Homo sapiens: one gene and its partners. The protein of the gene in region 4 binds, or shares a complex with, the protein of the main gene of each other region. Each region holds a gene or a part of one and is shown on either strand. Other genes may lie near its edges. The genes, in order: MED13, MED26, CCNC and MED12. A codon is read from its position in the direction of its gene.

Evidence for each region.
Region 1: the proteins of MED12 (region 4) and MED13 are in contact, whole or in part, in a cryo-EM structure (PDB 8TQC), measured with the Homo sapiens proteins. Residues at the interface, in NP_005111.2 of Homo sapiens: Ala3, Phe4, Arg12, Pro13, Arg16, Leu86, Thr123, Thr127, Thr150, Pro152, Val153, Met154, Arg155, Phe242, Pro278, Leu281, Arg282, Arg356 (codon at 6,824), Pro357 (codon at 6,821), Phe360 (codon at 6,812), Gly361 (codon at 6,809), Cys364 (codon at 6,800), Gln367 (codon at 6,791), Thr368 (codon at 6,405), Cys372 (codon at 6,393), Pro407 (codon at 6,288), Glu408 (codon at 6,285), Phe413 (codon at 6,270), Val417 (codon at 6,097), Lys1526; in NP_005112.2 of Homo sapiens: Ser157, Glu158, Thr336, Val337, Pro339, Gln340, Ser341, Gln343, Lys344, Trp345, Lys347, Phe348, Asp1186 (codon at 4,192), Ile1189 (codon at 4,183), Leu1190 (codon at 4,180), Gln1193 (codon at 4,171), Asp1194 (codon at 4,168), Pro1332, Ile1333, Thr1335, Leu1337, Tyr1340, Asp1341, Tyr1342, Asp1343, Tyr1344, Leu1345, Val1346, Leu1347, Ser1348.
Region 2: MED12 (region 4) and MED26 share a complex: the UniProt entries of both Homo sapiens proteins name them as parts of the mediator complex.
Region 3: the proteins of MED12 (region 4) and CCNC are in contact, whole or in part, in a cryo-EM structure (PDB 8TQC), measured with the Homo sapiens proteins. Residues at the interface, in NP_005111.2 of Homo sapiens: Ile6, Leu7, Ser8, Tyr9, Glu10, Pro13, Leu14, Lys15, Arg18, Leu19, Pro22, Asp23, Val24, Tyr25, Asn47, Pro49, Ala50, Val51, Asp54, Glu55, His56, Gly57, Ser58, Ala59, Lys60, Phe64, Pro66, Ile69, Asn72, Phe73; in NP_005181.2 of Homo sapiens: Gly3, Asn4, Phe5, Trp6, Gln7, Tyr11, Ile15, Asp17, Gln19, Asp20, Lys23, Gln49, Glu53, Leu57, Arg58, Gln59, Ile62, Tyr153, Arg157, Pro158, Gln161, Tyr162, Asp165, Leu173, Pro174, Trp177, Arg178, Ile179, Asn181, Asp182.

The regions. Positions count from the first base shown.
Region 1 is NC_000017.11:61,978,256-61,985,291, forward strand, and holds part of MED13 (mediator of RNA polymerase II transcription subunit 13), read right to left. Parts: intron 6,836-7,036; coding exon 6,745-6,835; intron 6,611-6,744; coding exon 6,396-6,610; intron 6,113-6,395; coding exon 5,916-6,112; intron 4,860-5,915; coding exon 3,943-4,859; intron 1-3,942. UniProt on the Homo sapiens protein: Component of the Mediator complex, a coactivator involved in the regulated transcription of nearly all RNA polymerase II-dependent genes.
Region 2 is NC_000019.10:16,618,202-16,625,237, reverse strand, and holds part of MED26 (mediator of RNA polymerase II transcription subunit 26), read left to right. Parts: intron 1-7,036. UniProt on the Homo sapiens protein: Component of the Mediator complex, a coactivator involved in the regulated transcription of nearly all RNA polymerase II-dependent genes.
Region 3 is NC_000006.12:99,541,869-99,544,678, forward strand, and holds the end of CCNC (cyclin-C), read right to left. Parts: intron 2,406-2,810; coding exon of another isoform or gene 2,354-2,405; exon of another isoform or gene 1,912-2,353; intron 1,742-1,911; coding exon 1,687-1,741; 3' UTR 519-1,686; downstream 1-518. UniProt on the Homo sapiens protein: Component of the Mediator complex, a coactivator involved in regulated gene transcription of nearly all RNA polymerase II-dependent genes.
Region 4 is NC_000023.11:71,121,569-71,128,604, reverse strand, and holds part of MED12 (mediator of RNA polymerase II transcription subunit 12), read right to left. Parts: coding exon 6,789-7,036; intron 6,406-6,788; coding exon 6,259-6,405; intron 6,098-6,258; coding exon 5,998-6,097; intron 5,868-5,997; coding exon 5,731-5,867; intron 5,511-5,730; coding exon 5,379-5,510; intron 5,012-5,378; coding exon 4,885-5,011; intron 4,447-4,884; coding exon 4,217-4,446; intron 3,842-4,216; coding exon 3,761-3,841; intron 3,630-3,760; coding exon 3,459-3,629; intron 3,255-3,458; coding exon 3,110-3,254; intron 2,943-3,109; coding exon 2,892-2,942; intron 2,570-2,891; coding exon 2,451-2,569; intron 2,265-2,450; coding exon 2,121-2,264; intron 1,637-2,120; coding exon 1,473-1,636; intron 1,270-1,472; coding exon 1,138-1,269; intron 713-1,137; coding exon 485-712; intron 310-484; coding exon 165-309; intron 8-164; coding exon 1-7. UniProt on the Homo sapiens protein: Component of the Mediator complex, a coactivator involved in the regulated transcription of nearly all RNA polymerase II-dependent genes.

The DNA of each region.
Region 1 (7,036 bases), on a different chromosome or scaffold from region 4:
TTTATTTTTTTTCAGACCGAGTTTCACTCTTGTCGCCTGGGCTGGAGTACAATGGCAGGATCTCGGGCTCACTGCAATATCCACCTCATGGGGTCAAGCAATTCTCCTGCCTTAGCCTCCCGAGTAGCTGGGATTATAGGCATGCGCCACCATGCCCAGCTAATTTTTGTATTTTTAGTAGAGATGGGGTTTCACTAGGTTGGTCAGGCTGGTCTCAAACTCCTGGGTGGCTCATGCCTGGAATCCCAGCACTTTGTGGGGGGCCAAGGTGGGCGGATCAACTGCTCTGTATTTCATTTGATTCTCTCAATACCCTGTAAAGTAAATCTATTATTGACCCTATTTTAAGAAATCAAGGCACAGAAAGGTTAACTAACTTGGCCCAAGGTAGCAGGTAGTATATAGTGCTAGAGTCATGGTAGTATATAGTGCTAGAGTCATGTTTCAAACCCAGGCAGTCTGAGTCCACAGCCTATGATCTTAACTACTCTATATGGCTTAAAATAATCTTTCCTTTTTTTTGAATACCTATGATATTTATTTGTGTCTTTCCCTTTTTAAATTTGGTCCCTGAGAATGAATAATTGGATAAATGCTGATACTGTCATATACATGAACTTAATCACTGGTCCATGTGTTGTCCTCTTACATTTCAAAAATTTTCTTTAATAATAAAATGAACAACTGTAATCTCACTGCCCAAGAACTAGAACATTACCAAAAACGATCTTATTAAATGTTTCTCCCTATCCCTATCTCTTGGTCATTTTTGGACACATGTGAAATTTCAAGAATTAACCAATATTCTCAATTTTATGTGCATGTAAATAATACATTTAGTTGTGCTTGTTTCAAAACTTTATTAACGGTAATACATTAAAGAGGTATTTTTAAAGGGTATCTGACTATATGTAATCTTCTGGGACTTGTTCCCTCTTCCTCTCCTCAATAGTATCACTAAGATTCATCTATTTGTTATACATAACTGTAATTCATTTTCAGAAGCCATATAACATTCCATCTGTACTATCATGATTACTCAACCCTGCAAACATGGCCATTTTTTTCTTTTTGAGAAAAATCTCACTCTGTCAAATAGGCTGGAGTGCAGTGGTACAATCATGGTTCACCGAATCCTCCACCTCCTAGGTTCAAGCTATACTCCCACCTCAGCCTCCCAAGTAGCTGAGACTACAGGTGCATGCTACCACACCCAGCTAATTTTTGTATTTTTAGTAGAGATGGGTTTTGCCATGTTCACCAGGCTGGTCTTGAACTCCTGGGCTCAAATGATCTGCCTGCCTCAGCCTCCCAAATGCTGGGATTACAGCCATAAGCCATATCTGTCAATTAAAAAAAATTCCTTTCTATAGGATCACTCCCAATGCACCTTTAATAAAATAATAATAAACCTCTCTTTTAACCCTATTATGCAATTTCTCTGCTATTTACAGCAAAAGTCCCCAGAAAATTGTCTAAGTTTGCTTCTCATCCCGTTCTTTTGTGAACCCACTCCAATCAGATTGACTGAAACTGCCTATCAAGGTGACCACCAACTTCTATTTGGTCACATCCAATAGCCTGTCTCAGTTTTCACCTTAATGTATCGAAGTATTTGATAGAGATGATCACTCTCTTCTAAATATTCCCGGGCCAGGCACGGTGGCTCACACCTGTAATCCCAGCACTTTGGGAGGCCGAGGCAGGTGGATTGCCTGAGCTCAGGAGTTCGAGACCAGCCTGGGCAACACAGTGAAACCTCGTCTCTACTAAAATACAAAAAATTAGCCGGGTGTGGTGGCGTGCACCTGTAGTCCCAGCCACTTGGGAGGCTGAGGCAGGAGAATTGCTTGAACCCGGGAGGTGGAGGTTGCAGTGGGCCGAGATCACGCCACTGCACTCCAGCCTGGTGACAGAGCGAGACTCTGTCTCAAAACAAAAACAAACAAACAAAAATTCCCTATACCTGATTTCTAGGATACCATGCTCCCTTGGTTTTCCTCCAACCTCCTTCTCAATTTCCTTTCCTGGTGCCTTTTCTCCCTCCCCACTTATAAATGTCAGCTCCATCCTTGTACTACTCTATCTACAATTACTCTACAGTTTATTTCATCCAGATCCACAGCTTTTCATAATAACTCACACACAAAATTTTTCTATCTCCAGACCCAATCATTCCTCTGAATTTAAAACATATTATCTCCAAATGTGTATCTGATTTACTCCCCCGTGTTTCCCTCCTCTGTAGTTAGTACTACCATTCACCCAGGTGCTCAAGCTATTATTGATGCCTCATCTTTCCTTACACGTCTTTTGGCAAACCCTGTAGGTTCTATTTCCCAAATAACCTAAAACCTATTACTTACATCTCGCTGGCCTCTTATCTTGTCTAAGCTACCATCATCTTTCACCTAAGCTACTGAAACTGCCTTCCAACTGATTTATCCTGCTTCTGTTCTCACTTTCACTACTTCCAAACCCCAACGCTATTTTCCACACAATAGCAACAGAGTGTCTTGCTCTGTTGCCCAGGCTGGAGTGCAGTGGCATTATCTCAGCTCAACACAACCTCCGCCCCCCAGGTTCAAGCAACTCCTCTGCCTTGGCCTCCTGAGCAGCTGGGACCACAGGCACGCCCCACCATGCTGGCTAATTTTTGTATTTTTCACCATATTGGGCAGGCTGGTCTCAAACTCCTGGCCTCATGATCTGCCCACCTCAGTCTCCCAAAGTGCTGGGATTAGACGCATGAGCCACCGCACCCAGCCATTTTTTTTTTCTTTTAGATGGGAGTTTCACTCCTGTTGCCCAGGCTGGAGTGCAGTAGTGCGATCTTGGCTCACTGCAACTTCCGCCTCCCAGGTTCAAGTAATTATCCTGCCTTAGCCTCCCGAGTAGCTGGGATTATAGGCGCCCACCACCAAGCCCAGCTAATTTTAAATTTTTAGTAAAGACGGGATTTCACTATGTTGGTCAGGCAGGTCTCGAACTCCTGACCTCAGGTGACCTGCCTACCTCAGCCTCCCAAAGTGCTGGGATTACAGGCATGAGCCACTGTGCCAGACTGAGAGATCTCTTAAAAAACAATCAGAATAAGGATCATGTTACTTTCCTTGTCAAAACTGTTCAATAGCTTCCCATCACATTTAGTATAAACCACAAAGGCCTTACATGGTCTATAAGACTCTAAATGATGCTGGTGAATGGCTACCTCCTAAATTTCATCTCCTTCCAGTCTCCCTATCACACAAAGCATTCCAGCAGCATCAGTCACCTTAATGTTCCTCAAACATGTAAAAGCAAAATACTCCCTCAGGGTCTTTGCACTGCCTGAAACACTCTTCCCTCATTTAACTACATAGCTCATATTCTATGTTATGTAGGAGTTTTCCCATATGCTATCTCCTCAGTAGTATCTTATCTGACCATACATCTAAAATAGTACATATGTGGTGTCTTGTTCTGTTTTACTCTGCTTTTCCTCCAAATTACTTCTTACTATCTATTATATGCTTTTTTGTTTATTTCCTATTTTCTCCACTAAATTATAGATTCAAAAAGGGCAAAGAATATGTGTGCTTTGTTCAACAGTGAATCTAGGCTAATACCTGGCACATACAAGGTGCCCAGTAAATACTTAATGAGTGAAAGAATGTTGAATAAAGCAGACCACTAGCAATGTTATGCTAATAAATATATGGAATGTGCCTTTCATATTCCTACATAAGTATATAATTACAGATTTATAATAACCATACTTTTATTGGTGAAATTAAACTAAACTGCTAAGAAATTCTCCCTTTAAAAACATCATCCATAAAGAGTTTTAAGTCCAACTTTAAATGTATTTGCCACATGGGAAACTGCCTTTATTACTTTTTCCTAAGAATGTAACTAAAGGGAAATAAGCAAACAAAAAAGTATTTTATTGGCATACTTTACCGTTTCTTTTGGACCAGGGGTGTAAGCATGAACTTTTCACAAGTGCTTCATCAACTTTTCCTCCTGACATGTTATCCATGAACTGACGCCCATGTTCTAATGCAAGGTAGCAGTCATTGCAACAGTCACGCTCTTCAACACGTACCCAATTGCTAATTACACCACTTTTAGGAAAAGGATCTTGGTCTGCTGCTCCAAAGGGTGAAAATAAATTAGTGCACTGATCTTGTAGCAATAATATCAAATCATCAGATAATTTTTCAGATTCCTTTAGTCCTCCATTAACATGTTCAGCAGAGGTAGCCCTGAGAGCTTCAAAACGTTTTTCTGCTTCTTTGCCACAGTCTGTATTGCGTCCTATGATATCTAGTTCATCTTCAAGAAATAATCCTGAATTGTTTCCAAATTTTCTGTTCATGACAGCACTGAAGCCACAGGTACACCTATATTGTGCTTCCTGCGTTGGATCTGGAATGTAAACTCCAACATCGGCACCCTTGATGTTCATGTTGCAAACACAGATGCAACAACTATCAAAGTTACAGTCTTTAAACAAATTCATAACTGATTCTGAAAGGATGAGGTTTACATAAAGACTGTGTGCTTCAGGGATGGAAGGGACAGTTGCAGGTTCAACAGAATTAAGGGGTCTGCATGTAGATGGGGTAGAAGCTGGTGAATACAAGTCTGAATTTTCATATTTGACTGAACCTTGAGCACTAGCAGGTCCACCAGCTCCACGAGGAGTCCGAGGAGTCCTTGGAGTCCTTGGAGTTGGAAACCGAGGGGTGGATGGAGAAGGAAGAATTCCTGCTCCGCTGTTACTAGGAGGTGCACTGCTAGGAGGCATCCCAAAAGAAGTATGAGTTTGAGGTGTATAAGCAGTGCCATATTCTTGATCCATATTACTTCCATCACTATCATCACCAGGGTAAAAGAAGATCAAATATATATATAAAGGAACATATTAGTAATGTGAAATACAACTAAAAACGTCCCAAATGTTTTTCAATTACATAGAAAATTATGAAAGGACAAGTATTGCAAGAATTACAAGCACAGTCAATTCTTATTTCTGGTTAACATATCTACTCTAAGTGATTGTTGTTGACTAAGGATCAATTAACAAGTTCAAAAATCATTAATAAGCACTCTATACACTAATGCATACCTAGACATCCATATTTACTATCTATAAATTTTGTTTACTAGAAATACTTATATTTCCTTGATTCTAAGATGCTACTGACTATAAAAAAAGAAAAATGATTTTAGAGATGCTCATGTGTAAAAAGGGAAAAATGGTAATTTTAAAATGCTACCACTTATAAGACATCTCAGATTCAGATTTCTTTTAGCCTTGAGTTGAAACTGACCAAGTCAGAGATGTTAAAATGTGAAAAGTGTGGAAAAGATGGCAAATGTAAAAATGGGAGCAATTTAAAATTGCAGCCCAAAAGAAAAGGTGCTTCGGAATACAAATCAAGCATAATAGTCTTAAGTTTCCTAATAGTTTATCCATACCCAATTAACCTTTTTTTTTTTTTTTTTGAGACAAAGTCTCACTCTTGCCCAGGCTGGAGTGCACTGGTGCGATCTCGGCTCCCTGCAATGCCTGACTCCCAGGTTCAAGCCATTCTTGTGCCTCAGCCTCCCAAGTAGCTGGGACTACAAGCATGCGCCACCACGCTTGGCTAATTTTTGTATTTTTAGTAGAGACGAGGTTTCGTATGTTGGCCAGGCTGATCTCAAACTCCTGACCTCAAGGGATACGCCTGCCTTGGCCTCCCAAAGTATGGGAATTACAGGCGTGATTCACTGCTCCCAGCCAATCACTATAATTGATTAACCAGAAATAATTTTTAGAATTTTCAAAAACCAATTTTATTTTTCCAGCATACCAGGTAAATCTATGAAAAAAAAATTAAAGCTGTATAAGCAGTCACATACTATTGTAACAACATAAATCATACCCCTCTTTGATGAATGGCATTGAAGGCCCTGAAGAAAGCAATTCCAATTTTCCAACAGTCCAACTCTGACGGTAAATACACTCTTCTGGCAATTTGATAGGGGGCAGATATTGGCTTGGTAGAGTTTTTAGAGGTGCAAACATGGAACATCCCACTAGAATTTGACAATTTTCAGGCTTATAGACATAAGAAAAATCCTACAATATAAAGATGGTAGGTTTTCAGTATCTTATCTTCTAGGAGGAAAAAATAAATAAACAAACAGGCTCTGGACCTTTTTTCCTTTCTTTAAACAGAATAAAATCTAAATACAATTCTATTATTTTCTTAAATGCATTCTTAATAGTGACAACAATAATTCAGTCCTCAACTTAGCTACAAAACCGCAACCACTATAAAATAATTTTTGACTATAGCAACAAATTAATTCTATAAGAAAATATAGGAAGTGAATTATTTTTCTAGAAAAAACATACTTACTTTAATTTCAGAAGGTTTGGGGCTACAGAATCCCTCATCAACCTCAATTTTGAACTGCGCTCCTATACTAGAACTATTTCCTTCTAGAACAGTTCCTCCAGGTGTTGTATCCATACTACCATATTCTTTATTATTCATATTCATTGGGGAAAATCCCATAATATGTTGTTCCAATGATGGTGGTGTAGGATACATTTTATGAAGATCTGCAGTGCCTATATTTAATAAAAACATACATTTTAACATGACTAAAAATAGGCGAATCTGTGTTTAAACCAAAAGGAGTGGGGAGCTTTGTTGAGATTAAAAGTTCGCAAATTTATCTCGAGCACAGATGAGGGAAGCTTACTTATGCAAGATAACGGGTCCAGATTTCCTGTCTTTGATTCCTTGCAGCTGGCTTTATCATCTGATCCATTTGCTGATTTTTTAGATCCAGGCTATTTAAAAAAAGCACATATTTATCTAAAATTTTACATCCAATGTGATCTCAAAATAGTAATCATTCAGATATAACTTAACAGTAAAGCCCATTCATTAAAAGTAGTATTTTGAATCTGTGATACAGCCAAATACATACTAGTGTTGAAAGATATAAAATATTTCTTAATCACTGACTCCAGATTAATTTATTTGGTAAG
Region 2 (7,036 bases), on a different chromosome or scaffold from region 4:
GAGTTAATAATTTCTGCCAATTCAGTAATAAAGTAAATCCTCTACTCTCCTTTTGAAAAGGCTACTAACAGTTTTTCAGAGCAGTTGGAGCTTTTCTTTTCGTCGTGCACCCTTTCAGCCCAGGGTGTTGAAAATCTCTCCGAAGCGCAGTGTGTGCATGATTGTTCCAGCTTACTCTCACTGCATTGTGGGTAAAGTGAAGGACTGTGTCTTACTCTCGCACAGCAGTCATAGTGAGCAGTCTCCTCAGCAGGTGATTCGGTTCCCATCTGCCTGGGACACTCGTTCTGTGGAGGTATGAGCTTTATCTTCCTGTGCAGCACGCAAGCTTCTTGGGGATGTTTCCTGTCTTGTCTTCTCCCTCTAGAGCAGAAGCATTAGGCACACTTTCTACCTGCTGCTTAAACTGACTGAACCCTAGCATCCATCTTGGACCTGTGCCTGAGGAGCTACATTTGAGCCCCATTTTACCAAGAAGCCTTTGTGACCACTTTATGCCCAAGAGTTCAGTCGTGGAATATTCTAATGCAGAACTTTGGAGAGTGGAAGAATCACAGGTGGCTTGAGATGCTACTCAGTAGAACTGTGAGGAACACAGATGTTAAGTGATGATTAACAAACTTAGCTTTTAGAGGAAAGGTCCGACGAATAGTAGACGGTGTACTGCATCCTCATGGCAAGTAAAATAACCGCACAGGGCAGGGCTTGCTAGCTGCAGGTGAATGCCCTGTGTTCAGACCAGGGAGAGGCCTGAGAAGGTCCCGCAGCAAAGAGGGACTTGAACTAGCCCTGGCCGCGTGTGTCAGTGCCTCCAGCTGCCAGGCTCTGAGCGGGAAACGTCCTTGGGAGCTGCTTTCTTTTTCACAGCTCTTCAGGCAACAGAGACCAAGGGAGAGGTGACCGAGGCACTCTGCAGAGAGACACAGCAAGAAAGATCATTTTCCCACCTAAGAATTGGAAGGTTGGATGTTGCTTACCTTGGTTTGCCTGCAGATTTCTTGTCCACAGGGTGGGATTGGGAACTGGTGTATGCACCCCATAAAGCTCCTTCCAGATCTAAGTTCAGATCCTAGAAGGGACAGCAGAGACTAATGTCAATTGTTCTAGAAGGGGTTTTTTTTTTTTAATATATCTTTGCAAGGTACATTGTGTGAAGTTTCTCAACTAACAAAATTCTAAACCAAGGTGTATGCTTTGTTAGTTTGTGTGGCACCCTGTCAGAGAGTTCTGCTTCTCCCCAACAGCCTTGTGAGTGGGGGAGCCAGTCTCCCCTTTTGCAGGTGCAGAAGCCAGCAGCATCAGGTAATAGGTGCTGCTCAGTGGGTGTCTCCAGGGGCAAGCAGAGGATAAAATGCTTTTGTTTCTTACTGACTTAATGGGAGGTGGTGGAACCAAAGTTAGGGACTTACCCAGAGTCATTAAGTGACAGTCCTTAGAGTCCTTTCAACTCTGAACACCACCACGCTGCCTTGAAAGTTGGAGAGATGGCTCCGGAAGAGGCACGAGGGGGCAGCATTTTTGAGCTGGTAAGAAAACGTGTGAGGATCCTGTAACGTCCCCTACAAGTGTATGTGAGATTACAGATTGGGGCTGGATTTACCTATGTTACATCTAACAGGGTGGTGATATGACATAGCCTGTCCCGTGAACATCTTAAGGTCTCTGTCACAGACAGAAACCTGGGCCAGACCACGGTGTGGCAACTAGCAACCGATGTGGAACTTTTCATGAATCTGTGTGACCAGTTTGCTCTCTACTTCAACATTACAGCACTTTTGATATTAACTTAAAATGCCATTTATTCTGCAGAAAAGCAGAATGGTGTAAATTGCAAAATGAAGGACTCTTGATTCTGACCCTATCCAAAATAGTAGAGGACCCTAAACCCAAACATGTAAATGCCACCTGATCCACAATTGCCCAGATTCAGGGACTCTCCTGTCTTTACTCTGTATATTGTGGCCAGGACACAGGAGAGGAGCAGCGTGGTGTTCTCTGACTTCGGGAAATGGAAAGGTAGCAAGTATCACCTGTGACACAGGTGTATGTCCTTGTCTTTGACTCATTCTGTCCCTCAGGAGAAAGTGGACTTTACAGTCTCTCCTCACTGAGGTTTCTGGGTGGTCCTCAGAATATGTTGTCCTGGTTGGAGGTCCCAGAGCCCTGGAGGACTGTCCAAGACCAGCATGTGGTCAGGGGCTTTGTTCTGGATACAGATGTAAAAAGGCACCATGGTCACGTCAGCCCCTGGGCAGCTGTGTAAGATAGGACATGTAGCTTAAGGGCGCCAAGGTCTCTTAGGTGAAGGAGGACACTTGGCTTTCCTTTTCTTGGTTTTGGGGTCTGCGAGCATCTTCTCAGATGGAGCTCTAGTTTAACCAGGCTGACTCCAGGTGACTCCAGTCCAGCGGGAGGGGTCCCCTGGCCACTTCCCCACTATCATCTCCTTCTGGAAACTGGGTGCTTTGTTACTGCACGTTGTGCTTTTCCTTTGTATTCCTAGTGGTAGGCTGTCCCACGTCTGCCTGGTTCCTTTGGGGACCAGGAGCTGGTTGTCAGAATGGGTGGCCAAGTTTGTGGCACAGTGAGTAAAGGAGAGGCAGCACATTTCATTCCAGTGTGGTCTCGCTAGCACCCATGCTTGGAGCACCTTCCAAAACAGCCGCTTTTCACTCTTAGAGCAGGGTGTGGATTTGCCATCGGGATTCCCTGAACCGGGAAGCATTTCCTGAGTAAGAAAGACATACCGATAATTCTACATGCTGTATTTAAAGGCCTTCTCTGAATACATTCCATGCCTTGGGAGGCACTGCAGTTACATTTCAGTCACTAACTGATTAGCAAGTGCTCGTGTGCTGGGTGTAGAGGGTACAGACCTGAAGATGCTCAGCCCCTGTGCCCAAGGGGCTTGGCGCCTCATAGGGAGGAGGGCAGATAGAGCATGGTCATGAACGAGCTTGGGTGGGGTGCCGTGGCATGTGGGCTCGGCAGTCAGGGATGGCCTGATGGTGCCGCAGGTCTCAAGTCCAAATGGAACAGTTCTCCCCGTGCCTTATTTGAAAACAGTTGAGAATTCTTAAGAATATGAGATGGCTTTCTTAAGTATATTCTATCATCCAGGTTTTCAGAATAAGTTCTGTAGTCAGGCAGGCAGGCTCTTCTTGCGTTGTCTCTGGCATGAGGGGAACAGAGCTGGAAGGAACAGTCGGCAAATTATTGCACAGTTTTCCCTCTCTGCTGTGGGATGGGGCACAGGCAGATGTCGAGCTGTGTCTGTGGGTATGGTTGGGGTGTCTGGGCTTGAGAAAATGGGAAGGGCCTTGGGGTAGCATTACATGGCACTGGTTTTCAGTATTTGGGGTGTTGTTGTACCCTCTGGATTAGATTTGCTCTGTGTGGCTTTTGGAGGCAAGCCTAGGGTGGGGAAGGTGAGAGTTCTGTGATGTGCTTAGGGAAGTGGTGGATTATTGTCAGAGCTGACTTAACACAGTCTGGGGGCACTGTGAGATGGCTATGTGGACATACCCAGGCCCTTGGATTCTGTGTATAGGCCTTTGGATTCTGTGACCATCCAAGTACCGGGAGGTTCTGCGATTCTCTGTGGAGCCTATTCAAAAGGAGAGGGGTCATGTCAGGTGAAGTACCAGCAGCCCTCTGGGAACTCACATCCCAAGGATTGCCAGGCAATTGGGGTTAAAGGCCTTTGGATGTTACTGTGACTGCAGCAAAGTTTCCTGGGTTCATCCACTGCAGGAAAATGAATCTTGGAAAACGTCAGGGGGCTCATCAGGTTTCCCCTGCATGCAGAGTTAGGCTCGGTCTCCTGTGTGCCAGCAGCAGTCTCTGTTGGGCAGCAGAGGCTGCAAGACGAACAGCCGCTGTTTACTGAGCACTTACACAGTGCCAGACACTACTGTGTGGAGTGTCTCATTGCTTCTTTGAATTACTTCTAGGGTAGGTGCTTCATCTTCATTTTAGGGGCTAGGAGAGATTCACCGATTTGTCTGGTATTGCAGACAAGGGAACCAGAAGCCTTGGGTCTGAATCCATCACTGGGTGGTTCTGATGTCAGAGGGCTTAACTACGACAGTCTTCCGCTTCCCACATCGGTGGTGCCCAGCATGGAAGCTGAACTCCATTGCGTCTTCCAAGGTGTACCCTTGCAAACATGAAGTGTTTTCACATGTTACATTTTGAATTCCATTCCTTCCCAGTTCCTACAACTTTTCCCCCTTTAAATTCCTCTAGCCTAGTGGCTCCAAACCTTTTTGAGTATGAGGGTTCATTTTTATCATCAGAAACCTTCTGGAAGCTTCACATAACAACAGGTGTGCTTTGAGTAACTGTTTTAAAGAAAATTCGAGGACAGAACCTACTCCTAATCCAGTCATGCTTCGAAATGAAGTTCTGTCTTGTCATCAAAACAGCATCAGTGTAACTCTGAGAGCAGGCCTTACCTGTATGTGTGTGACACCTGGAATTTGACCTTTGTGCTGCCTCCAGTTGGGAGCCTCCTGTCATCCCTACTGCCTCCCTTTTCTGAAACCTTACCTGGCTTAATCCAAGACCGTCTCCCTCAGGAACCATTCATCATTTTAACACCTTATATTCCTGCTGATAACAGGTCTTGTTGGTTACATTTTCCATGTGATTGTGAAGTGCCCAAGTAGGAGAGCAGGTGTTGCTCCCTTAGTGTCTAGAACTGCCACAGCACGTGGGTGCCCAAATGCTTGGTGCTCTCACTGTAAACAGGGCCAGTTTTGGGAATGGCTGTCAGCGTTACTGAGCAGGTCCTAGGTGCCAGCGGTTTTCAGCACTTCACCTGCATTCAAAACACATTTAATCTTCATAGCAGGTGTAGATTAAACAGGAGGCAGGTACTAGTGAGGAAACTGAGGCTCAGCGGACACAGCTGGAAGGAGGCTAGATGGGATGAGGCTGGGGTTGGAACACAGCCACCTGCTGGCTGCCTCCCTTGTCATGTGAGAGGCCAGTGGGCACTTGCTGCGCAGGCACTCCCCTTTCTTGCCTGGGTCCAGCTGTTTATGCTGGATTCATCTGTGCACTGCTCTTATGCCAGACTGGGAGGACAGTGGTCACTAAAATGCTCTGTGCTTTCTCTGGAACTGGCTGAAGAAGGGGTGTGAGGTGTGTTTTCCTCTCTTTCTCGTCAGGTATTTTTCACCCTAATAGAGAAGGCGGCGCTTGATCTTAGATTTCTGCCTGTCCATGGTCCCTAGACACTGTTCAAATGTCACTTCATCTGTGAAGCCTGGGTCCCCAGCGATCCTTCGGCCTTTTTTGGTCATGTGACAAAACATGGCATTCCTGGACACACATCCCCCCAGATTTTCATTTGCTATGGTGAGAAAGTAGGGTGCTGCTTTGTCCAGGCCACACCCTGGTGGTGGGTCAGCCTCGTGGCTGCTGTGGAGACTCGGGTATTCGTGTGCTGGGTGCACAGCATGGTTTTATAGGGCGTTGGCTGTGGCTGGCCTTGACTCTGGTGGGGGTTCTGTGGTGCAGGCATCAGCAGTGGGTGAGTTACTGGGAGGACTCAGGTGGGTGTGACCCATGGCCCACACCGAGAGCCCAGTGGGCTGGCAGCACTCCCAGGCCCTGGCAGCCCCACTGCCTGCTTGTGCCTTCAGCACGGTAGTGCACTCTTCTGTTTCCCACCCACACTCCTGGTCACATTGGCTCTCTGGGCAGCCCCCTGCACACACTGGGTTTAAGTTCTTATCCCCTTGATGACTTGTTTTGATGTCCCCCGTTCTAGTCATCAGGTTCCTGGCCCAGCTTGAGTTAGGCATGGAGAGGTGGCCACATCCTCGTTCCCCCCAGGGTGATGTAGTAGTTACCATGGTAGCTAACGGCTCTCCTGTTCTGCAGGCCAGCCCTCCAGAACCCTTTATAGATGCTGCCCAACTCCATTCACCTCCCAGGTGCATCTTGCATGGTGCCTAGGCAAGCAGTCAGCAAGCTGGCTTTTCAGTGCTGTCAGTGGGAGACCCGTGATACTGATGTGAAGGGATATAAAATAAGAACAGTTTTATCCTTTTGGGTGGTCATTGGTTCACATTGTTTCCTTCCGTGTTAATTGGTTGCCTGCACAGCACTTGTCTTTACTTCCTATACTAATTCTGTGGCCTGTCCAGCCCTAAAGGGAGGTTAGCACTGTGCTGGTGGCAGGAGCTTAGACACAAAGGGGCTGATGGTCATGCAGGCCCAAAGGCAAGTCTGCGGTCAGGTGAGGACCTGGTTTTTCTGTCTCCCTCTTTTGCAGTGTTGCCTTCACACAGTAGGGTGTCTTCCTCTCCATCCCAGCAGTTTCAGGATTTTCCCTCACCGAACTCCCGACTCTTTGCTGGAAGCCCCACCAAACGTTTCCTTATGCCTTCTCTGAGCTTTGATTGGATTAGCAGTTTGATTGAATTAGTTGATTGGCTTACCCCTGAATCTGCTGTGGGTTCCACCCAAACAGTCCCACAATAGAGGGGATGTTCCCAGGAGACATCAAGGTCCTGTTAACGGGAGAAGAATAGTGGATCCAGTGTCCATGGATGTGCACTGATGTCATCACCTCTCCTGATGTGACCGCCAAATAGTTGGGCCTTGGCTCCAGAAGGCAAAATGGGAGTTTTTGGGGAAAAAAATGGGAAATGTAAGGTCCAGAGTAGCAACAGGGTGGTTTGGCTGGTGTGAGGTCACCGCGTGGAGTTGTGAGTACCTTCTTGTTCTGGTTAAACCACAGACTCCATTTGCCTGTAGTCACCCTTGGGGACCTCGCTGTCACGCTGTCCGAGTGCAGGTGCTGGCCAGCTGCAGCTTCAGATCCTGTCCTGGGCTGGAGACAGTCTTGAATGGTGCTGTTTTTTCCTCCCTGTCTTGACAGTCTCTCCTGGTGCTTCAGTCACTGCCTGGAATGGAGCTCATTGCTGGGGGAGGTGGTGCGGTCCAGGTGGCCTGAACCCCACCAGGCCTCCTGTGGTCATGAGGAGACTGCGCTGTGACCCAGGCAAGAGCTGTGGCCCCT
Region 3 (2,810 bases), on a different chromosome or scaffold from region 4:
GATTTGCTTCAAAATAAGATGGGGGATGGCAACTTACGGAAAGTGGGTGGGAGTTTAGATGAAATGAAATTGGCCATAAATTGATAACTACTGAAGCTAGATGATAGGTACATGGAGGTTCCTTACTTTACTCCTGTATATGTTGTTTTAAATCTTCCACAATAAGAGACTGAAAACAAAACTATGAGGCATGGTATTAATTTTAAAAATAAACACTTAAAGACTATAGGTCTTACCTAAGCCCAACATTAATTCCTTCAGACCTGAGGAGAGCTTTTTTTCTTATTAAGCCCAGGAAACCTATATATGTCATCAGTCTGACTTTACACAGTCTCGCTTTCCAGCTCATTTGATACGCTCCATCAGAAATAAATTTTCTATTTAAAATCTGTTTGTAATGATTTGAAATTACCCCCTTGACAACCTATAAAAGGCTTTAACACTTAACTAAAGGAAGAAGAATTCTCAAAAAACAACATCAGGCAAATTCAAAAAGATAAATTCAAGACACTAGTCGATACAGCTGGAGAAGTTACTTTTATTCTTGCAGTTTTATACTAGGAAGTCAACATTTAATAAGCCATCATCCACAATTGATTAAAAATGTTTAATCCTTAAATTGTGCATCAATATCCTATGACTCCAAATTTTATTTATCACTCTCCTTCAAGTCTGAAGAAAATGATTAATTTGCTAAGTTCCACAGACAGTACAGTCCCACTGACATAACATTTAGTATGATGTCCTACTCTCATATTAGAATTAAGGACAGCCAGTATCAAACTGGCCTGAAACCTGATTGTGTTCCTGGTTCAGAATACCTGTAGTAAATCTGTAAATCCACACCAAGACACAACATTAAACTAGGGTGTGTATATCTTATAAAAACCTTTTCACAGTAAAAATCAACATTAAAATTTTACCAAATTCCAACATTATGGTTTTTGAATCCAATTAAGCTTTCAAAATGCCTGATTAGCTGTGAATTAATTATAAATAACTTCATGTAGTTTGCCCAGCATTTCAAAATGGTTATGGACTATCATGTTTAAAATGTCAAAGTATGCTATACATATTGCACTTTTCTGCTAGGCTGGGCTAGTATCTTCCATGGCAAGATCCTCAAACTACTGAATAAAATACACTTTTAAATCAATATAGGTACTTGATTAATTTCCCTGAAATTATCAACATCATTACCAAAATCTTCCAGGATTTTGTAAGATTTGATTCCTTAAATACAGTTTTAAAGTTAAACTTATGGAGGGAAAAAAACCCTCATAGATTGACTGTAAATTTTACGTCCTTTTTTGGTCCCTCAATGACCAAAGAGAATTTTAAACAAATTATGCTTCATGTTTCCTGGCTTAATAAAAAGCTACAATTTTTATTATCCAAATTAAGAAATATTATACTAATCAAAAGCTATTAATTTTGAAATGTCTATGTATGTCTGTCTGTAGGTCCCCTTAGAACCTTTCCAAACATTTATAATCAAGAGATTTTAATCAATTATGTACTAGAATCATATTAAAGAAAAACTTATTTTGCAAAAATAAAATCACTTTCCAATATGCTTGACAGAAACAAGCTATTCATTTTCATTTGTGTTCCACTGAAGACATTACTGAAATCTGTCCAATGGTTTATTTCCAAGTGGTCCACTATGGAATTCTTCGGAATGTTTTAAGATTGGCTGTAGCTAGAGTTCTGACTTCCATTTGGACCCTGCTCTCCTTCACTGTTCAAATGGGGAAGAAAGAGATTTTATACCAATTAAAAGATCCATTTTTACACCCTGATAAGCCTACTGACTTTTAAATTCATTATTCTGTGGCACAACTATACAAAACAAAGACATTCCTCATTATAAGACACGTGAAAAATTAAAATCCAGAAGACTAACAAACATTGGTTTTATGTTTTTATTCTTATATAACTTTGTGCCCTCACATATAACAAGCATTCTGGAAGTTAGTGTCCATATATACTCAAAAACTTTAAATTAGGGTATGGGATTTCATTGTTATTACAGGTATCACTCAACATAGAGATTACAGCTTCTTCTAAACAAATTTCCTATAAAATTAAATCTTACATATAAAATCCTATTCCTACTATTTATGAAAAACAAGAAGTGTTCTTCAAAAAAAAAAAAAAACCAAAACTGTTGTCCAAAGGCATAATAAAATCATATATAAATACAGCAAACCTTTATAAGTCAGCAAGAAATATGGTAATTTCCTGGAAAATGCTGAATACTTAAAATAAAAATGCTGAATACTTAAAAATAACTAAAACTGAAAATACCAGTAACTTTGGCAATAGGATTATTGCCTTATCTTGTCCACCATCATCTTGCAGCTTCAGGCCCTGCCACTAGTGGAGAATCACTCAGGGAATTTCTGCAAAAAATGCATCCAAAGGTAGCTGTTTGAATGACTGCCTTAAACAGCTCCTTGAATAAAGTATTAACTTTTTCCAAATTGTAACATTAACTTATGAGTAGCAATCCATAAATCTATCTTGTTATATAACAATCATTTTTCTAAAGAAACAATTAAGATGGATGGCATTTCTTTATTTCCCTTCTGACTTTTTCTCCCTGCCCCAAATGAACTGATACACAGTGAGGGCTGAGAACCACTGAACTAAATGAACACATCTTACTTAAAACACACACATACACCCCAATAACAACAAAAAAAACCCTCTTAGCACAGGTGATTCATTTTTAGCAAAAATATATTCTTATGTGCCATGGACCTTAGGGTCACTTAAAAACCAAAATTCTTTATCTTTACAATATC
Region 4 (7,036 bases):
CACTGACCTGGAGGAAAAAACAGACAGACACCATGACTCAGTGTGGAGGCCCACTCAAAGCGGTGTGCCTCCACTCTACGGAACTCTGTCCCTGGTCAGAGGATCACAACCAGCCCCCTGCCCTGGTCACTGCCCCACTAGCAAAACCCCACCCCAAGTCTCACATCAACATTGCAGAGGAGATCGTTGAAACCACAAGTGCCATTGTTAGAGGAGCAGCACAAGGCCTTAAGCACTCCTAGCCATTCTGCACTCAGTGACTTGCAATAGCCGGTCAGCTCTGCACACAGGATTGCGATGTCATTCACCCTAGGGAAAAGTACAAATGCCCTCAGGAAAAACCTTGCTCCACAAAACCTCAGACCCATTAACTTCTCATCTCTGCCCCACTAAATAATCAAGGTTGTAGTACCTCCCGGGTACCTCAGCCCTCCCTATCTCAGATGGGGGCATGGTGCCCTTCCTCACTCAGTACACCCCATACCTATCGGGATCATGGTGCCCCACACAGACGTGCATAAGGGCATTGCAGACAAAGCTGTAGCGGTTAGCAGGGTTCTCACTAAGACTCTTGCCTAGCCCCGTGTAGGTGAAGGTGTGAGCTGCAGGGTTCTCTAGAGTGTCGATCATGAACTCAGGTGCCCAGCGCATATTTGATTCCGATGGCTCCACGTTGCAGTAGATGGTGTTCTTCACCTTTGAGCAAAAGTCGCTGCAGGGATGGAGGAAAGGAGATAGTAGTGTTGAAGAAGGCCTGCTGAGGTCGAGGGATGGTCAGGAAAGGGGAGAAAAGAAAAAAAGGAGAAAGTGAGGGATGAAGGATCTTGAGACAAGAAAAGGGAGATGGGACAAAACAGACTGGGCAGGAAAGGAACCACATGGGAATAAGGAACTGGGGCCTCTGAAGGCAGTGAGGAAAAGGGGGAAGAGGGTGGGCCCCACAGATATAGGCGGGGAGCAAGCCTGCTGAGGAAGAGGGCCCACTCTTGGTAACACAACAGTATGTGGAGGACACAGTCCACAAATGACCCTAGACAGGCAGCAGGGTCCCGGGCCATCCTCTCCTCCTGAGTTGGGTGGTCATGGGAAGAAGGGAGTAGGTCCCACTCGCTACCCCTTACCTTCCACCTCTCTTACCTGAAGAGCTCCCCAAATTTGTTCTTTAAATGGCTACAGGAGGTGTACAGATCATAGAGATAAGCAAGGATACAGCGCTCTGCAGAGGAGCCATCGGACCGGTTCATCCCATGCTTCACGACGCCACACAGCCTGCATGAAGAAGCAAGGTTGGGAGGGTCAGCAGATGGTATGCGGGCTCCTCCAAACAGATTCAAGCCTCTGGGAAATACCATTCTTTTCCCACCTGAGCAGCAGGTGCTTCCCCAGAGTGTGAGGAAGTGCATGCTCTTCCCAGGCCACTTCCACCGGCATTCGCCAGAGCTTTGTTTCAGTTATTCCGAAGCTCTGCTTACCCCTCAAAGACCTGTGCCATCTGGTCCTGGTTGAGGATGAGGCAGGCATGATAGTGCCGCAGGACAGCCACGATGCACAGGCACAGGCTAGTAGTGTAGCTGCCCACCAGATCCGAGGATTTGAGAAGCAGCTCAGCCTCAACTACACTCAGTTCATTCAGCAGCTAGCAGAGTAAACGGGGGTGAGAAATGCAAAGAGGCCCCTTGTGTTACATAGAAACCACCTTCCTGTGGGGACGCTGGCAAGGCTGGGCCTGAGCCCCTTCCTGCTGGAGCCACCACAGGATAGAAGGGCTCGTTACCCTATGCCACAGTCTATCAACAACACCTCTATTGATAGTTTATTGTTGATAGTTTATTCTATCAACAACACCTCTAACCAGTGTCCAGGATACAGTTCTATGAACTCCACAGTGGGAGGATGGTCTGTGCCCAATGCTCTAATCTGCCTCTTGGCCTCCCCAGGGAGCACTTAAGTCTCTATTCCTGCAGTCTTAGCTCATGTTCCACTCCCCCCATGCTAGTCTTTCTGCCCCTTCAAATAGCTTGGGAAACTGGCTGGAGCCTCTACGCCTGTCCTTATGACCCTCCGTAGCCGCTATATGGCATGAACTCCTGCCTCCACCCTCATCTCCCCAACTTCCCCACCTGAATGGCAAAGTCGATGAGGCCACTGATGCTGAGTGAATATTCCATGAGGTCGAAGATGAACTGCACATGCTGCACCAGAGGCAAGTGGTATGACATGCCAAGGGCAAAGCTCGTGATCTGCTCCAGAACATTCCGGGAGACCTGATAAGGGCAGTGGGAGTGAGATGGGAGTGGAGAGAGGAAAGAACCAGGGAAGGAGGAAAGGATGACACTGGAAGGGGATGAGACCAGGAGGCTTAGCCTGCCTAGCAGGGAGAAGATAGGGAAGAAAAGGAAAACAGAACAGGAGGCCAGAATGTGGGAAAGGGGCTGGGCTTAGGCCCACACCTGAGCCGTGACCTGGTGTTGGTCATAATGTGAAAGGTGCTGGAACTTAGCAAAGATATCTTCAGCAGTGGGGAAGGCTTCAGGCCGGTTGCGTCGCCGCTTCTGCCCATCCTCCCCACCTGAGGGGACAGTTGAAAGGGACCAGTCAAGACAGGGAAGATAACTAGTTGACTAGGGGTGGGGAGTGGGGTATGGAGAGAAGGCTATGGGAGGGAGGGAGGGAGAGATGGAAGGAGGGAGGGAGGGAAGGAAGGAAGAGGGAAACAGGGAAGGGAGGGTCAAGGAAGGGATGGGGGAGGAATGAAGGGAAGGGGACAGTGAAGCAAAGGTTTAGAGGACCACAGACTATGTGGACCTTAAAGGAATATGTACAGGGAGGTGCTAGGTTCAGGGAGGGAAGGGAGAGGGAGGGAGGGCAGTATGGGGCTTACTGTGAGGTACCTAAGAATGTCAGGTCTCCAGGATTCAGAGGCACAATAGGAGCAAGCTGGTCTGTAGAGGGGGGGAATGAGGGGGGAAGTTTCAAAAGGACTAGAGCTCTCAGGAGACTCCAAGAGACAGGACATTGGGACATGACTGGGGAGTTCCCTATACTGGGGAAGGGAAGACTGACTAGGGCATTCTTTGGGGGAGATCTGTTTAAGGAGCCTCAAACCCACCAGTTTCTGCTGTCCCTTTGCGGTTCAGAACCTTCAAGATATCCTTGGTGATTTTCTTGATGGCATGGCGGGCATCATCTCGCTGCTTTCCCACCCCAAACAGTACGACCAACCGCTGGTTGCACTCATGGCTGCATGACTCCTCCTGCATCCCAGCAGCACCATCAGACTCCAGCACCGATCTCCTTCCCTCCTCTTGAAAGCATGCTCCACACCCCTCAGCATCCACATGCTAAAGCCCTTCCCTTTCCCAACCCACATCCTCAGAACAGCTCCAACCCCTCAGCAAATTCCTTTGACAGCAATCTGGGTTCAAAACAGATCATCACAAGGTGCTGGGGAATAGTACCTGGGGGATGGGAAAATGGGTGGCGTACTGCACGTGTCGTGGCTGGTCGTAAAGAACCCCAAGGGTCCCTTCAATCTTCTCCTTGGGTGGGGGCTTCACCTCCTTCTCGACATCTGGCTTCTCAGGGGATGGACTGCCCTTCCCCTCACAGGGCATAGTAGGGGAGAACAACTGAGAGAAAGGTGAGAAAGCAGAACATGAGAAGAAGGAAAGTGGATGAGGGGGCAAAAAAACATGCCAAAAGCAGGCATAATGGGAAGATCCAAGGATCCAGATTCTGCCACGCTCAGGATTGAACTTACTGAGAAATCAGGCTTCTCCATGTCCTCAAAGAGAACACTGGAACTAGGGTCAATGTCCATAGATTCTGAGAGCCCTGGATCCTGAGGGCATAGAACATAAGCGAAGTTGCTTTAGCCCTAGGGAGTGGCTCCCACCATCTGTAAAACTTCATTGGGGAAGTGGAGAGAGAAGACCAGATTGGGGAAAGCACAGGATCTGGAGTCAAGCCTCATCCAATCACTTAACCAGTATAGGCCTCTGTTTTCTTCAGTTTGAAAATGGGGATAAGAGTACCTCACAAGGCTGATGGGAGGAACCAATGAAACAATTGATGTGAGAGTGCTTGGTCAATCACCAAGTGCTAAGAAAAATACTACCCCCCTCCCCCAGGCAAAAGAGGCTCTTAGAGGCCCCTGGGAGCCATGAAGATGGAAATGTCAGAAGAAACGATCTAGTGCAAGGAAAAGCCCACTCACTTCCAGCTTGCTGCTGCTGCTGCCTTCAGCCTCCTTGTGCTCTGGGTCATCGGCAGGATCATCAAAGGGAGAGGGAGGCCGGGGACCAGGGGCTCCAAAGGCAAGGTCCCCTCGGGAGATGAGAGTGCAAGTATACATGTTGTGGGAGAAAACATCATGTCGAATCAGTTCACAGAACAGCAGTACTAAGTTAAAGAATTCCACCCGCTCACTCTCACTTCGAGGGTCCGCTGGAGGAAGGGAATGAGGAAACATAAGTTAGGAGAACACAAAAAGGTGGGCCAAAAGAGAGAGGGACACACCTAAGGCAATAATAAGAGTGATCAAATAGAAATCCCAGAAATTGTTGAGGGACAAAGTGTGGTTGGTTACCCCACATGCTGTCCCACACATCATCTCAGAAAGGAATGTAACATCTTTGTTGCGATTTATGCAGTGAAAATGCTTCAATCACAAGCTCTTGTTTTTATCCTTCTCTGTATTTCTCTACTCTGTTTAACTGTAAGATGACCAGTTAAAGAGGATCACTAGAACTACATCTAAAAGTCATTCTGCATAGAGCCCAAGAGAGAAATATAGACCAGAGGGCTGTTAATTATGCTTTCTGATGACAGTGGTGGGTAACTGAGTCTAGGCAGAGGTAACTAGAGAGTGGTAGGGGTCCGTACTCAGCATGGGAGCCTGTGTATCCAGAAACTGCAGGAGGACATCCTGGAAAATGGGAGCACTGGGAGCAGAAAGGGAGCCAGAGGCGATGGAACCCTTCTCATCTGCGGCTTCTGATTCTCCACAACGCTGCAAGATGACAGAACAAATTGTAGAACTGACTTTTACCTGCTTCTTCACTCCTCAATGTGTAGGCCTTAAACTACCACCTGCTTGACCTCTACCCCATGCTTTTCACTTTCATTCCCCTGCTGACCTCCATGTTCTTTACCACCTCCCAACTGAAGCCTTGATGTTATCTCTAACTCTTACTACAATCCACTCTTCTCTACTTTCGCCTCACGTCCGTAACTTTGCCTTTAGGTTCTCTTTTGCTTCTTTACTCTGTTCTCACACCTTCAACTCTGGTCCCTCCACCACCTCCATCTCTCGGTCTCCAACCGCAGTAAATTCCTTCCCATTGGCCAATCTTGTTCTCTTATCTCTGCCCTCTAACCTCAGCCTCAATCTCCGCCTGTCTCTTCTCCAGGAGCTTGGCTACCACCATAGCACGATGCCGACCAGAACGCTTGCAGCTGACAGCCCATTCACATAGCAATGACACCACAGCATCATCATCTGAGGAGATCTGGAGAACAAAGGAAGAGAAGGAGGAGTAAGGTAGGGGTGGGGACAAAGAAATGAGTTCCAATTTCCTAAAGACTGGGCTCTATCATAAAACATCCTGGGCCCAGTAAGATCATTTCTGCAGATATGCTCTGCTTTCAATGCCTCACCATGACTTCCCTCTCAGACATATTATTGCTCTTGCAATGTTTTTTGCTCCTTCTATTCCCCTTTTCGCTTACCTCATGCCCATCCTTGCTAGGTCCCAATCCAAAGATTCGGTTACAAAGGGAGTCAAGAGAGTTGCTGAAGTCAGAGCGTTCAAAACTATGGCTGTCCAGCACTTCCAAAGTATGAAGTACCCGTCCAATGGTGAAGCCTAAGGAGGAAAAGTGGTAAAGGGGACTGAACCAGAGGCCCGGTGCATTCTGGCTCTTAGATCTACATGTCCTTACTATCCCCATCCTTTCCTCAAACATATTTCCTATTATCTGTTCTCTGACACATACCTGCAGTAGCTTCCTGGCATTTATCGAAAGACCAGCGAACTTCAACTGCCTGTCCCCGCTCCTTGATCTGCTGCTCGATCTCCCGCAACTTTGCACGGACCTGCAATGTTAAAAAGGAAGGCTACAAGGATGTACCAAGGCATATAAAAGGCCAGAGCCCCAGGCTAGAAGAATAGTACTAGACTCCAAATCACTACTTCTGAAAGAGTAATTTAGCCTCATAGCCCAATCTGAGAGTACCAGGCTAGTGGTCAGACATACCTGCTGAGTGAAGGCACTGTTACCCTCTGGCATGGGCAGGTTGGACGGGGCAATAGGCAAGTGGTCAAGTGGTGAGCCGGTCTTAATTCTGCTATCAGTCAGTGAGTAGTGCCAAACCAAGGCACTAGGACAGCACAGGAGGATGGTCTACCAGATAGAAACAGCTAAGTCCAACTCATTCACCATGGTTACCCCTCTGGAATCCCATTCTAAGACCCAACCCGTAGATTCCAGATCCAAAGTTATTCTGACTGGGTCCCCAAGACAGGCATCACTCCACCCCGATCCCCTCCCTTCACTCACTTTCCTAAAAGGCTTTGGGCCCACTATTTAGCCTTGGAAGGGAGAGAGAGGCTGGTGAAAACCCCCAAAGGGGACTAACACCCCATTACCAAGAAACAACAACCTCCAAGCAAGTACTCAGCACCTACTCCCACATCCAATTTGGAATTACCCCTATTCTCTGGGATGGGCACCTGATTCTTCTCAGGCTATCTCTCAATGCTTCCTTGGGCCCGCCTAGTACCTACCTGTAGGATACAGCTGAGGCCAAAAACCAGGGGCCGGTGCTGAGGGCACATAAGCAGGTCACTAAAGGGAGTCGAGGGTGTGCTGCTAGTTGGGGGCTGAGGAGCAGGGGTGGTGGGTAGCGTGCTTGTTGACTGAGCAGATATAACATGAGATGAGTGACTGCTCACACCATCCAGCTGCAGGGCCAGTCTCCGTGTACAGAAGTAGGCAAGCCGGCGGGACAGGTATGCAGACTGAACAAATTCCC